Regions from separate parts of the Homo sapiens genome. Here region 2 is reported to be linked to region 1. The links are microRNA targets in miRTarBase. Many come from high-throughput screens and were not tested one by one. Region 1 holds a microRNA gene; the other region holds the end of a gene's coding sequence.
The links. The annotated mature microRNA hsa-miR-5571-5p reads CAAUUCUCAAAGGAGCCUCCC and lies in region 1 at 3,379-3,399, shown strand. An mRNA with a match to its seed (bases 2 to 7 or 8) in the 3' UTR can be bound and repressed. Matches are read on the target gene's strand: a 7mer-m8 pairs with bases 2 to 8, a 7mer-A1 pairs with bases 2 to 7 and ends in A, and an 8mer does both.

Region 1 (7,264 bases):
ACCCTCTCTCTCCCTTTCTCTCTCTCTCTCTCTCTCTCTCTCTCCCCCCCTCCCCCTCCCCCTCCCTCTCCCTCTCTCTCTCTGCCTCTGTTTCCTCCTCAGTAGTGGGAAGACCCCCTGTCAGGTGGGCCAGTCCATGACATCTACAGAGGGAGCAGGAACCTCTCCTATTTCCTGGAGGAGAGCTGGGGTGGAGGCTGCAACCCAGGATCATCAGAGGAGCTGGGGTCTTCAAGGTTCCTAGGGACCCCTTAAGCGGGGGTCAGAGTGGCTTCAGCGGTCTTATTGCTCGGTCCAGACAGAAGATGTTTCCAGTTGTGAAAAACGACTTCAGGGACAACAAAAACAGAGATTCGCCTCTCCAGACACCAGTGGTTGGTGTGCCTGGAGTACTCCTCGTACCAGGCAGGGGAGAGAGTCCTAGACAGAGGAGGTTCTAAGTGTCACCTAGATTTCAGGCCTCGGGGCCTGTATTGGGTAGGTGATGTCACAGTGAGTTGATGCTCTGTAGCCCCTTCCCTAGGAGGTGGCAGAGGGAAGAGCTGGTGGTCCTCTGAGGTGTGAGTGAGTCCAACCCTGAGGGTCTTCCCAAGCTGGAGGTCCCTGGGTGTAGACGGAAGAGGTTCTGGTCAAAGAGGCCTGGTGTTGAATCCTGGTCCATTTATTCATTTGGTCAAGAAATATTCATGGAGGACCCAATATGTGCCAGGTGCCAAGCCAGGTGACTGGGGACACAGTGTTGAGTGGGACAGTTGGCTCCTTCACTGCTAGAGGTATTATATTCTCAAGCCGAGACTCGGCTCTACGATTGTATGTCAGATATATAGCCTCTATGTGCATGTCTCCAGAGACTGGTTTCCTGGAGTTCCAAGTGACAGCCATCACTCACCTCGAATGCAAAAATTAAAGGAGCATCCAAAAACCTAGTGACCCAGATAAATAATACTTAATGCAATATTTTCAAAAATCAAAATTAATGCCCAACAAACCCACAATGAACAAAATTTCAGGATCTGACTCACTCACCTCAGTGGTTTTGTTCTTGGTCCTACCCACAGTCCCACAGGTGAGTGAGTACCCACAGGGATGCAAAACCAGAGTCAGGCCCCTGCACCGCCTTCTGCCCGGCCACCAGAGCCCTCCCCTGGGTCTTGGCCTTTCTCTTCTGAAGAGCTCCAGCCAGTTCCTCCTCAGGCTTCCTCTACTGCTGGTCTCTTCTGCCCCCTACTGGATTCTCCCCTTACAGCTGCACTCCAGGCAGCTGGTGGAGGTTAAAGAACAGAAACCTCCCAAAACTCCACCCTCCAGTTCCAGGCTGGCTCCACCTCATGTCCAAAAAGGCTGGTCCTCCAGGTCTTTGATTGCTATTAGTAAGTCCCAAGACACAGTCTTTACACCAAGTCGCTGTGTGCCTTGGGCAAGAAACTCTCCCTCTCTGAGACTGTGTTTCCACACTGGTAGAAGTAGCTAGAAGACCTCCCTGCCAGGTTGGCAAGTCCACTCTGTGACATCTACAAAGGGAGCAGGGATCTCTTCCATTTCCTGGAGGAGAGCTGGGGTGGAGGCTGCAACCCAGGATCACCAGAGGAGCTGGGGTCTTTGGGGTTCCTGAGGACTCCTCAGAGGGGGATCAGGAGCTGCAGAGCCAGCTTCTAACTCTGGGGACTCAGAGATCCAGAACCTTTGTCATATCCCCAGCCAATACTTTGTCATCCTGTGCCTCAGACTCCCCCAGATCCCAAGAGTGAGAAGCTCAAGATGAGACAAGAAAGACCAGCCAGCTTGAATTTAGGGATGGTGGGGAGTGGGGAGCTGGGGACCCCTGGACCTGGGGGAGAGGAGTCTGCAGTGCCTGCAGGTGGAGTTTCTGGGACCTGGGGGATGGAGACTGGGCAGGGGACTGACCAGCAGAAGGCCAAGGTGGGGGATACCCTCAGACATGGAGCAGGGCAGAAGCAACTGGATGGGGTACATCCCTCTGCTTTGGGAGAGAAGGGCCAGGGCGGGACCCAGAGAGCTCTGCAGAGGCACCACAGACCCTCAGCAGGGGGTCTGCCAAACAGGACAGCTGGACTTGGCTGCTTCTGCCCAGGCCTGGATCCAGCCCTTGCACATCTCAGGGCAGGGGATAGGCCTGGGTGGCCAGAGCTGCAGCTGCACCTGCTGGGGAGGCCTAGTCCAGTCCTCCAGGGTCCCCAGACAGACTCGGATTTCCGACTGCAGCCACCATGGAAGGATGTGGTCTGCGGTGACGATGTCTATCCAGAGGCCATGGCAGGTGCAAGGGTGGGGGTAGGGGCAGCAGCTGGGGATGCTACATTTAGGGACAGCCCCTTTTTATCCCCAAGACCTGGGACTGTCCCTGAAAGGAACCACAGCTTCTGGGTCCTGAGCAGTGGGTGAGTGTCATACCCACAGAGGGGCTGGAAGGGAGCAGCTTCAGCCTAGACTCCCAGGGCAGACCCTGCCCCAGCCCCGAATATCCAAGGAGCCCAAGATCAGAGGCAGGAATAGGCCAAGCTCCCCAGTGGAGAAGCTGTGCTGGACCAGGGGTTTCCCAGGGCCCTCCCTTGTGCCCTGAATGATGTCTGTTAGGGCACCTACACCCTGTTACTGCTCAGTGCCTTGCCTATTTTGAAGGACAGGGATGTGTGGTGATTATTTGTATAATCCAGCCCCCAGCACCTGGTCCTCAAAAGTTACCCAAGCAATGTGTATAAAGATCCAGCCTGGAGATCTTTGAAAACCGATTCGATGAGTCGAACCATTAAGTCATGATCACCATCCTCAACTTCATCTCTTTCTTCCTCCTCCTCCTCATTATCATCACCTTCAAGAACTGTTAAGAGTCTGAGACTTCATCCTATTTGCAGACTAAAAAGTAAGCCTGCCACAGTGCCATGGATGCTGGCAGAAGATACAAGACTCCTGGGTCAGAGACAACGAATAATCTGTTTTTCACAGCAATAGCAGTTGCCAAGGTATCAGCATTGTCTTGCACCAGTTCCACAAGGTGATGCAAAGAGGGCCAGGTGACATCTGCATGCCAGAGCTCAGGGATCCCAAATATTTCATACTTGACAGTAAGCATATATCTGTGTTTTGCTCCAAAGAGAGGCATTCTCTGTACCTTCCGAGGTTGTTCACTCCACAAACACTCTTGAAAAGATAATCCACAATCAGTGCCTTTGCCCGAGAGACATGCAGAAATGCAGAGATCCATAGTAGACCACTGTCTCCCAACAACCATCAACTTTATCAATGAAATGAAGTCTCAGGCTATTTGTCTGTTACCATAGCCCACAAAAATGTCTGGCTTGATTGTCACCAAATGTATCAAGGAAGTTAAGGAGTATCTGACACAAAATGTGAACCAAGCAATTCTCAAAGGAGCCTCCCAGGAAATTCACTTTAGGAAGTCCTAGGAGGCTCCTCTGAGAGTTGCTAAAACAAAACATTGAGAGTCCTAGAGGGCTGCAGATCTGAACTTGAGCAGATATTTTTAAAGATTTTGTGGCAGAAAAAGAAACTGGAAAGCAAGAGGGCAGACCCTCATTGCAGTTCTGTAATGTAAGGGGGCAGAGCAGGGGCCTTTCTCACCAGAGTATGGGGTCCTGAAGATCTCCTCAAACATTTTTATACTAGGCTCTCAGGGCAACAGAAAAGATGGGAGCGATGAATGGGGCGTAAAGGAGTGCAAATGACACAAGGGGTCACATGAAGCAAAAGAGGTTTATTCAACCAGATTTAGTCCATGTTTAATTGAGCCACTCCTTTGTGCCAAGCTCTGGGTTTTCCCATGCACCAAGCAGTGTGTTACCACCTAGACCCAGAGAGCCATGTCATCATCAGCAAAGCACGCCCTAGTGTCATGCAAGGACCAGGCCTCAGATTCCGACTCCAGACCTACTGCCTCTTGGCCCTGTGACATTAAAAGAGTAGGGAATCAGCCTGAGCAGCATTTCCTCATCTTCAAATGTGGAGGACAGTAGATGATCTTAGCTCCCAGGATTAGTGCTTGTAAAGCAATAATAATGTAATGCATTATTATTGTATTATGCATCATATTCCCATATTATAGTCAAAAAGGACCCCAACTTAAAGCACCTGCCAGCCCTCTCCTCCTCCACCACTGCCGAATGGAGCCAGGCACGAGTATTCCAGGTGGACAGACGAATAGAAATACAGGGGACGAGCCCCTTCCTAGATCCTAGCGCAGCTTGCTCCCTACTTAAGGAATGATATTGGACCCTGCATTCATCTTCTCTGGATGGTAATTTTCTCACCTGTAAAACAGAGACACTGGCCCCAAGGACACCCCACAAGTAGTTGTGAATCCCAAAGTAAGAGAAGAACAAAAAAAGAACCAGAATTTATTCAACACCCACTGAGTGCTTAGCAAACACATGGTTTCTTTAACTCTCATAAGCTTCATGCTGCAGAGGAACTCTCCCCATTTTACAGATAAGGAAACTGAGGCCCAGAGGTAACCTAGGTCTAGATAGACTCCACATTTATGACTTCACCACTCTTCCTTGCCTGAAGGATATAGAATCACTCCCTGCAGGGCTCTTGCCTGACTCAGGAAAGGGCCACAGGATAGCCAGCCAGGCTTAACCAACCCAGCCAAGAAAGGGCTGGTCCCAACTGGCTGGAGTGCAGTGTACAGGCACCCAGCCTGGAAGACTGATCAGAAAAGAAGCCACAGCTCCAGCCCCAGCCCCAACCCCCTGAGCTCAAGCCCTTGGGGACTCCTGCTGGGCAGCTCTCTAGGCCCTAGGGAGATGCTCCACAGACCCAGGCTGCCCTTTGGGAAGTGGGGAAGACAAGTGGGTCAGGTGTGCACCACCCAGGGGCGGGGCCAGGCAGCCGGCTGTGGTGGGAGGCAGTTGAGCCCTGGATTGTGACCGCTTCAGGGCAGTTGGTAGATGCCCCTCTGGGAGAGATCCCCAGGGGTGACAGCCATGGACCCTGGAAGGGCCTGGGCTAGGGACAGGGACCAGAGCCAGTCCAGGGAGAGGACAGAGCCAATGGACTGGGGTGTACTGTAACAGCCCTGCTGGCGAGAGGGACCAGGGCACCGTCCTCCAGGGAGCCCATGCTGCAAGTCGGGCCAGAGGTGCCCCTGAACCTGAAGGCCAATGAGACCCAAGACAGGCCAAGTGGGTTGTGAGACCCCTGAGGAGCTGGGCCCTGGTCCCAGGCAGCGCTGGCCCCTGCTGCTGCTGGGTCTGGCCATGGTCGCCCATGGCCTGCTGCGCCCAATGGTTGCACCGCAAAGCGGGGACCCAGACCCTGGAGCCTCAGTTGGAAGCAGCCGATCCAGCCTGCGGAGCCTGTGGGGCAGGTAAGGGGCAAGAGATTCCAGGGGATGTGGGGGTCCTGCAGCAGAGCTGGGAAAGGGTGACCAAGGGGAGACAAGCCAGAGGAGTGAGGAGGAAGGTTAACCCCTAAGAGGGGCCTGGGCTGACACTGGCTTTAGTAATGGGTTGATATTTTGTCCATCACAGATTTGTTTGAATTACTGTTTTTAATATCATATTACGATATTATTTTTCTTGATTTCTGAGTTTTCTGGCGCCACTTAAATTTTCACCAGGGTCAGTGCCTCAATCACCTAGTCCTAGTCCTCTGGGTAGGGAAGGAACAGAGGCAGGGACAGGACATCCACAGGGGGTGGTGGCCACTGTCCCCACAGGGTGCCCAGGCCTGTTCCTCCCCCTCCTCCTCTCTGCCCATGTGCCTCCTGCCCAGTGAGGGCAGGGGCCACTCCCTGGAGAAGGCAGCAAGGGCTTGGTTTGGTCTCCCCCAAGGCTGTCTGTTCACCAACTTGCACATAAATGCTTACTGGGGCCAGGCTCAAGGACACAGGGAGGGTGGGATGAACCGAGGGGAGCTGTCCAGTCATTGGAACAGGCCCACGGCCCATGTTTGGAGCAATAAAGGGAGAGGGGATCTCCCTCTGGGATGATGCCCAGGCTGGTCTCACAGATCGAGGGGCACTGGCTGGTGATGGGTGCCCCCAAAAGACAGAGCAGCGTCAGAGGAGAGGAGAGCACAGGATGAGGCTGGGAGCTCCTGGGTGACTGGGAAGGGGAGGCAAGAAGACCATAGGGTCCGTGCACCATTCCCAGTCCAGGACGAGTCCTTGGATGGATTTAGGTAGATTGATTATCAGAGTCAGATTTGTGTTTTTGGAAAAATCAGCACCGGATTGGAGGCTGATGCGACGCCCGATTAGAGGAGGGAGGAGAGGGGGTGATGGCCAAGTCCAGGGTAGGTGGGGATCCTGGAGGAAGCCGTGCCTTGGGGATGGGGAGGACACTCAGATTCAGAGCACCCAGGGGCCCAGTTTCCTATGAAATGGGAGCATGAAGTTGAAGTGAGGGCTGAGCAGAGGGGAGCAGACACGCTCGGGGACTGTCTATGGGCATTAAAAATGTATAACCATTTTAGCAACAGGCGGCGAGTCAAAAAACAAAGTGTGTTTATCTAAACTGGGCAATTCCACTTCTAGGAATTTATCCTAAGGGTTGGTTGGGGGAATAATCAAAGCTGTAACCAAATCTTTATAACAAGGGTGGTTAGCTCAGCATTATTAGTGATGGGAGAAAACTGGAAAAAATCCAAATATCTACCAGAAAGGGTGTGAAAAAACACAATTGTATTTGGGGGACTGTTGTTGTTTTTGTTTTGAAACAGTCTTGATCTGTTGCTCAGGCTGGAGTACAGTGGCGTGGCCACAGCTCACTGCAGCCTCAACCTCCAGGGCTCAAAAGATCCTCCAGCCTCAGCCTCCTGAGTAGCTAGGACTACAGATGCAGGCCACTACACCTGGCTAATTTTGATTAGGATTATTATTAGTTTAGAGACAGAGCCTCGCTATATTGCTCAGGCCTGTCTCAAATTCCTAAGCTCAAGCAATCTTTCTGCCTCAGTTTCCCACGTGCTGGAATTACAGGCGTGAGCCACTGCACCTGACCCAACTGTGTTTTTAAAGTATATATGCATTTTCAAAAACCTGTCAGAAAATATAGAAAAATGTCAATGGTGTGTCTGGCTGGCTGATGGGATTTCACCTAATTTTAATGTGGCTTTATAATTTTCTGGTTTTGTGAAGTTGTTCACAAAAAGAGACATTTCTTCTAATATAATTTTTAATACAACAGTAATGTACTCATGTGCATTACTCTTTTTGTAATGAGTATATTACAAAATGTAATGACTTTTGTACATTACTCTTTTTTCTTGCCAAAAAAAAAAA
Region 2 (7,000 bases), not on the chromosome of region 1:
CAAAGAAAATGTCTGATGGACTCAGGGTGATCGATGGCACTTTTTTTTCTTTAATTCTCAAAAGATAACTACATAATAATAAATGCATAACATCTTGCAGTTTGTAAAGTTCATTAGCTCAGCCATCCTGTTAGGTGTGTACTGTGAAGATGTCTGTTCTACAGCTGAGGAGGTGGCAGCCCACAGGTTGAGTAACTTCACGGATTCCACAAACACTTTTTGAGAAACTGTGCCTTGGGTTTAACTGTTTCCCAAGTGGGCTTCAAGGTGGACTTAACAGTTATTATTTATTTGCATTCCCTGAAAGCAGAAACAAAATATTTTGTTGCTTAGTTAGGAAAAAGAGAATTCCTAAATGACCAGTATGAGGTTGGATACAACGCTCTTGCACACACCTTTTCTGATCTCTGAAAACTAGGTTCACATCTGAGCAAACAGCATTGCTGTTTTCAGAACTAAACAAGGTCACCTGGGTTCATATTGCAGACTCTTTTATTCTGCCTTGCTTCTTCTACTATATCTTACTGCCCTTTGTACATTCCAATACTTCTTGAAATTAGATACAAGTGAAAAAAATACTAAAAATGTTTTTTAAAAGCTAGAGATTGCCTTTTTACAGCATCAAAAATTTCAATGACAGGATTCATGTATAAAAAACAAGCACATGTAGAGCCCCTGAAATATTGTTTGATTCATAGAGTTTAAGTTCATAGATTAATTTTAGAGCTATATCTATATAAGATAGAATCCTGCTGTGTATACCCTGCCTAATTTCATCAATTCTCAGACCACCAGTGCTGTAAAAGACTACTCCACTCTTCTTTTTAAAATCCCAAAATAAAATGAACTGAAGATAAAGCATAGAAAATGTTGATCGGCATGTCAATATCTTTATCTTTTCTCTGCTTGTATGTTCCAGGTGGGAGAGTTCAGAGCACACGCTGCTGAGTGGACAGCCAACGTCACAGCCGAATTCAAAGAAACCAGGAGGCGACTGAGTGTGGAGATTTATGACAAGTTCCAGCGGGCCACCTCCATCAAGCGGAAGCTCTCGGCAGAACTGGCTGGAAACCACAATCAGGAGCTGACTCCTTGTAGGAGGACCCTGTCAGTGAACCACCTGACCAGCGAGAGGGATGTCTTGCCTCCCTTACTGAAGACTGAGAGTATCTATCTGAATGGTTTGACGCCACACTGTGCTGGTGAAGAGATTGCTGTGATTGAGAACATCAAATAGCCCTCTCTTTAAATAACCTTAGGCATAGCCATAGGTGAGGACTTCTCTATGCTCTTTATGACTGTTGCTGGTAGCATTTTTTAAATTGTGCATGAGCTCAAAGGGGGAACAAAATAGATACACCCATCATGGTCATCTATCATCAAGAGAATTTGGAATTCTGAGCCAGCACTTTCTTTCTGATGATGCTTGTTGAACGGTCCACTTTCTTTGATGAGTGGAATGACAAGCAATGTCTGATGCCTTTTTGTGCCCAGACTGTTTTCCTCTCTCTTTCCCTAATGTGCCATAAGGCCTCAGAATGAATGAGAATTGTTTCTGGTAACAATGTAGCTTTGAGGGATCAGTTCTTAACTTTTCAGGGTCTACCTAACTGAGCCTAGATATGGACCATTTATGGATGACAACAATTTTTTTTTTGTAAATGACAAGAAATTCTTATGCAGCCTTTTACCTAAGAAATTTTCTGTCAGTGCCTTATCTTATGAAGAAACAGAACCTCTCTAGCTAATGTGTGGTTTCTCCTTCCCTGCCCCCACCCCTAGGCTCACCTCTGCAGTCTTTTACCCCAGTTCTCCCATTTGAATACCATACCTTGCTGGAAACAGTGTGTAAAATGACTGAAGTGATGATGCCCGAAGATGAAATAGATGCCAAATTAGATGGACATTGAAGCAACACTCAGCGTTGCCTAGCGTTAAAGGCACTGCAGAGAAATGAGGTGCAGAGGTGGCCCCTCTGAGTATTTATTTGACTCAGGTACCAGTGGTACATATATACAGTGTAATTATGACCAGGCTGGTAAAATTGGCTGCTCGCAAACAATCCCCTTTTTTCCTGGCAGTATTTGGAATTTATCATTTATTAATAACTATACATTTTTAAAGGCAGAAGAAGAAAATCTATCTATCTATCTATCTATCTATCTATCTATCTATCTATCTATCTATCTAAATGACCTGACAGAAGAAAACTGTTAAAAATGGATATTATTGGAGGGGATTTAAAACAGTGGGTGTGAATTATCATTCTGATGGAAAGAAAATAGCAAAACAATGTGTTACAAGTATTTGCTAATAAACAGTATACTGCCAGCTTCTAATTGCTTTTTGATGTATGAAAGGCTTATATAATTTTCTTTTCGTTGGGTGACTTTTGCCAGATGAGAGGAGGTGGCACAGTGGTGAGTGCAGGGCACAGTCCTAGCCTTCTGTGGGTATACTTTTGGAGTTGTGACTTGGCTGTGAGGGCAGAAGTTGAAGTTGGGATCACTGTGACTTTGCACATGGAAAAATGCAGATTGCAGGCATAATTCATCTCTGACATTAGAGAAAAAGCTGTTATAGCACAATTTAAATTTTGAGAGTTTGCTGTGTTTTTTTTTCACATAAAAGAGGCTGATTATTCTTTTTAGTTTAATTTTATATCCTGTAATTCTTTGGATGGTTCCAAGATTCAGAAAAAATTCAGTAAATGCACCCCGTAAATTGCTACCCTTTCCTTTATTTTCATACTTAGATCTGCTGTACATTGTATATATATATAATTTTTAAAATGCAGAAAGAAAATAATTTCCCTAAATATAATTGCAAACTGATTTCTTTTACTTTTTTGTGTGTGGGGGTGGGAGCTGTATCTGAATAAGTGGCATTCAGATTAGGGTCTTGAAAAATAAACCCAGAATCTTTAAAAGAAGCAAATAAACTAATAGACGCTTATTTTCCAAAATTTAAATTTAAGCTAGAAATGTAAATATTCAATTAATTTGTTAAAAGTACTTTTATAAAGTTAAAAAAAATCCAACCAAAATTTTAGAAAGTCAGGCTCTTTTAGAAAGAAAGCTACACCCATTTCCTCAAATAACTGTTCCGAAAATTTATATGGTGGAATGCGCCATGTATAAACTGTGAATTGTATTGACAAATAAAGTTTGTAATTAAAGTCAGCATTTTCTGAGTCTCCTGCTTGCTGCTGAGAATTCAGATATGATCTAGGTAGGTAGAACTCCAGGATGTTACTTTTCATGCTGAGTTTGTGTCCCTCCTTTATTCAAAATATTTAAGAAATATTTTTGATGCATTGATACTACCCTTGCTAAATACATGCAGACTGTTTTCCTCAGTGGCTACTCACTAAAACCAAATATACTGAAATTCATTTTTGAAATAAGATATTTGAAATCGCATATAGTTTCAAGATTGTTTCTATTATATTACCATATATTTATGCCATATTTTATCATTGTTAGACCTTGTCTTGACACTGAAGTAGACTGAATGCTGAACACAGGTGCCTGAATGTGTTTTTTGTAAGAAAAAGACAAGTAAGCATCCTGGTGGTATTGAAGTCTAAAGAAGGTAGTTACCAACCGATCTTCTAGACCTTATACCACAAATGTTTGGACTACTTACCTTGTTCGTATCCTACATAGATTTATTGATTAATTCCTAAACAATTTGATGCTCAGTAAGTATTCTGAAACTAGCCCCCCACATTACCCTTAGGATTAGGGGAATTTTAAGAAAGTGTGTATTATGTGAACTGAAATCACTTTTATTTTCTCAAGCTTTATTTTGTTTATTTCTTGTAGGGAGAAACTTGATAAAGATTTTGACAAAACGTGGAATTTTCTAGTGAGTTTATTTTTCCATTAGGCCAATATAAGAGTGAGTAGTTTTTCCTGGAAAGATATTTGAAAAAAAACTACTAGAACAGAAAGTATCAGGGACTCCCTAATCTATATCCCTAGATGTAGATTTTAGAATATGCTCTCTATCCAACCTTACAGCCACTAAATGTGAAAGTGGTTCTTTTGGAGTTCTTTCAATTTCTTACATAGATCTATATACTGTGCTACATAGTCCATGTGACACACCTTGTTTTCCAATAGTATTTCACTCTTGTAATGCAGAAGAAAGTAAAACTTCTGAGGCCAAGAGGAAATTGAATAATGTGCATCTTGGCCTTCAAAAAAAGAAAGAACCGTGTGTAAGGCTTTGTTTATTTCTCAAATTTTAAGGAACACATGACATAAAAGACCAAATCCCATCTAATTCTGTGTCAAAAATCAGTAGAATTATTTGACTCTTAAAGCTTAAAGTTCAAAGAGACTTAAAGTTTTAAATGGAATACCAAAAAACAAATTTAGACATTCTGAAGATTTGAAATAGCTGTTTATTCCTAAGAATTAGAGGTCTAGATCAACTTGTCTTTCTTTTTTTGTTGTTTTTAATTCTTGCTGGTCTAGTAAAGCTGTAACTTATTTGGGATTTGCATTTCTTATTAAAATGTAAGTATGACTTTGTTTTTATATAAACTAAAGGGTTTTTTTATTTGAACGTTCATAACTCCATTACAATTAATGTGTGATATTTGCTTTAGCATGATTTTACTTAAATTTCCTCCCATAGTGAAACTGGCCAGGTGCGGTGGCTCACACCTGTAATCCCAGCACTTTGGGAGGCCAAGGCGGGTGGATTACTTGAGGTCAGGAGTTCGAGATGCAGCTGGCCAACATGGTGAAACTCCATTTCTACTAAAAACACAAAAAAATTAGCCAGGCGTGGTGGCGCATGCTTGTAGTCCCAGCTACTTAGGAGGCTGAGGCAGGAGAATTGCTTGAACCCTGGAGGTGGAGGTTGCACCACTGCACTCCAGCCTGGGCGACAGAGCAAGACTCTGTCTCAAAAAAATAAAACTAAATAAATAAAATAAAATAAAATAAAATAAAATTTCCTCTCATAGTGAAACTGGCCTTGCATATGCTCATGTGTCAGTTCCAAGATAGAACAGGATAACCTGGTTATTTCTGACAGAAACATTTGAGGGTAACGTATTGTAGTTATCTTAATATAGGGGGAGCTTCATAAGCTACACTTGCTTTCTTCCTCCCCCAACCACCTCAACGACCCTCTCAAAGATTTTCCCCTCTTGTTTCATACATGATACTTCCCCAGCCATAACTCAACTACCACTTCCTGAAAGACAGGGATTGGTTTCATGGAACAGGAGTTTTGGTCTTGCTCTTTTGTTTTGATTTGATTCTGTTCACTAAACCCCGGCTTTTACAATTTCTAATATTTATAAAGCCGTTTATTGTTTTCCTAGTATTAGCTTTACAAAATGTTTTCATTGTGTTAGGCTTGTCTCAATTTACAACTATTTTTTCTTTTTATCTGGCATTCCTTGTTAAAGTATTTTTGTATAGTCACCAAAAACTCACTGCCTAGTCTTTATTCTGTTTATTTTGAACCTTTAGACTTGGACTTCTTGCTCTGGATTCATCAAGCTAACTCACATGGGTATCTTCAATTCTAAAACGGACCTCAACAGAACCAAGACTCTTTTATAATCTTTCCCCAGACCTGGCCTTCTTCTGGTATCATCTATTTGAGCGGATGGCATGACCATCCCTCTGGCTGGGCAAGTCATCCTTGATATCTTCTTCTCTTCCTCAACTCTATCTCCACTTATCACCAAGCTGTTGACTTGTAAACTAAATATGTTTTGAATTTGTACACAGCCATTGCCTTAATCCAAGTCAACACCATCTTTTCCCTTCACTCAACTGCTTTTATATCATTCTTTTCTTGTCATTGATGGTGAAGAGTTGTTTTTAAATTTGCAAATTGTCTACAAGGCCTTCTTCTAATTAGTCTACTTTATGCCACCCTCTCCAGACTCATCTTGTATCCCTCTCTACCTCTGTGAACCCCAGCTCCACTAGATTTCTCACTTCTGTCACAAGGTTGTGTTGATGTTGTACCTTTACCTAGAATGCTCACTCTCTTTTTCCTCCTTAACCTTTTTCACCTAAAAAACTTCTACTCATCCTTCAGAACCCAGCTACACTATCATTTTCTCTGATAAGCCTTCCTTAACACCAATTCAGGTAACTTTGTAATATGCTCTATAAAACCTCTTTCTTTCCTTCAGTTTATGATTAGATATTCATAACTATTCTTATTTATTATATGTCTCTATCACTAGAATGTAATTCATTTGTTTTAGCTTACTATTTTATTCCCAGATACTAGCAGAGTACATAAAATCGGTGCTCGATAAATACATGATAAATGAATGAATAAAAACAGGGATTTGGCTGTTGTAAACATCTGAAGTTTCCTTGTGCATAAATAACTCATATTTTCTTAGCTCCACATTTATCTGTCTTCTTCCACTGATTACTAGTAAATGAAATACAAACAGCAGTTATTTCTCCTATTAACTACTATTAACTGATAAGCTGGTACTAGTTATTGTGTGGTGTGTGTGTGTGTGCATGTGTGTGGGTGTATGAATTAAAGCCAATTCTCACACTAGACAGACTTGCAGTTTATTAGTCATTATATACTCTTGCTACTTATAAGCAAGAAATTTATTGTTTGTATTTCTAAACTTAAACTCACAATAGATACTATCAAAGCTTTTCAATTATAGTTTAATCTTGAAGATTTGTTTAGAAATTAACTTCAAAACATATTTGCTAATGCTAGTAAGTGGATGCCTTTTTATTAGTAGAAAGCTAAATGCACAATTATTATCCTTGCCAAATAAAATCCAGCTTTTTCATGCTTAAACAAATTGATAAAGTCTTGGAAGCAATCCATTATTTGGCACATTTGAACAGTATTCAATAGAGAATATTAATCACTTACATGGTGTGATTGTAAAATTAATTCATAGAATAATTATTGTATTTCATTCAATTGATTCTTGATTTTGTATATGGTATCCCTTTTTGCACTATACAATTAATAGAGA

Region 2: miRTarBase lists KCNK2 as a target of hsa-miR-5571-5p. Seed matches in the 3' UTR shown: 7mer-m8 at 1,384-1,390 and 7mer-m8 at 1,545-1,551.

The regions. Positions count from the first base shown.
Region 1 is chr22:22,882,913-22,890,176 of GRCh38, forward strand. It overlaps MIR5571 (microRNA 5571), which reads left to right and starts at 3,355; the gene lies at 3,355-3,467. IGLL5 (immunoglobulin lambda like polypeptide 5) reads left to right here and starts at 4,904. Exons shown (of 3, transcript NM_001178126.2): 1 at 4,904-5,347. The coding sequence starts at 5,142. LOC105372948 (a long non-coding RNA gene) reads right to left here and starts at 1,687. Exons shown (of 4, transcript XR_938047.2): 1 at 1,027-1,687. It also overlaps IGL.
Region 2 is chr1:215,233,909-215,240,908 of GRCh38, forward strand. It overlaps KCNK2 (potassium two pore domain channel subfamily K member 2), which reads left to right. Exons shown (of 7, transcript NM_001017425.3): 7 at 920-3,182. The coding sequence ends at 1,237. Among named protein-coding and RNA genes, the nearest start is that of KCNK2, 150 kb to the left of the region's middle.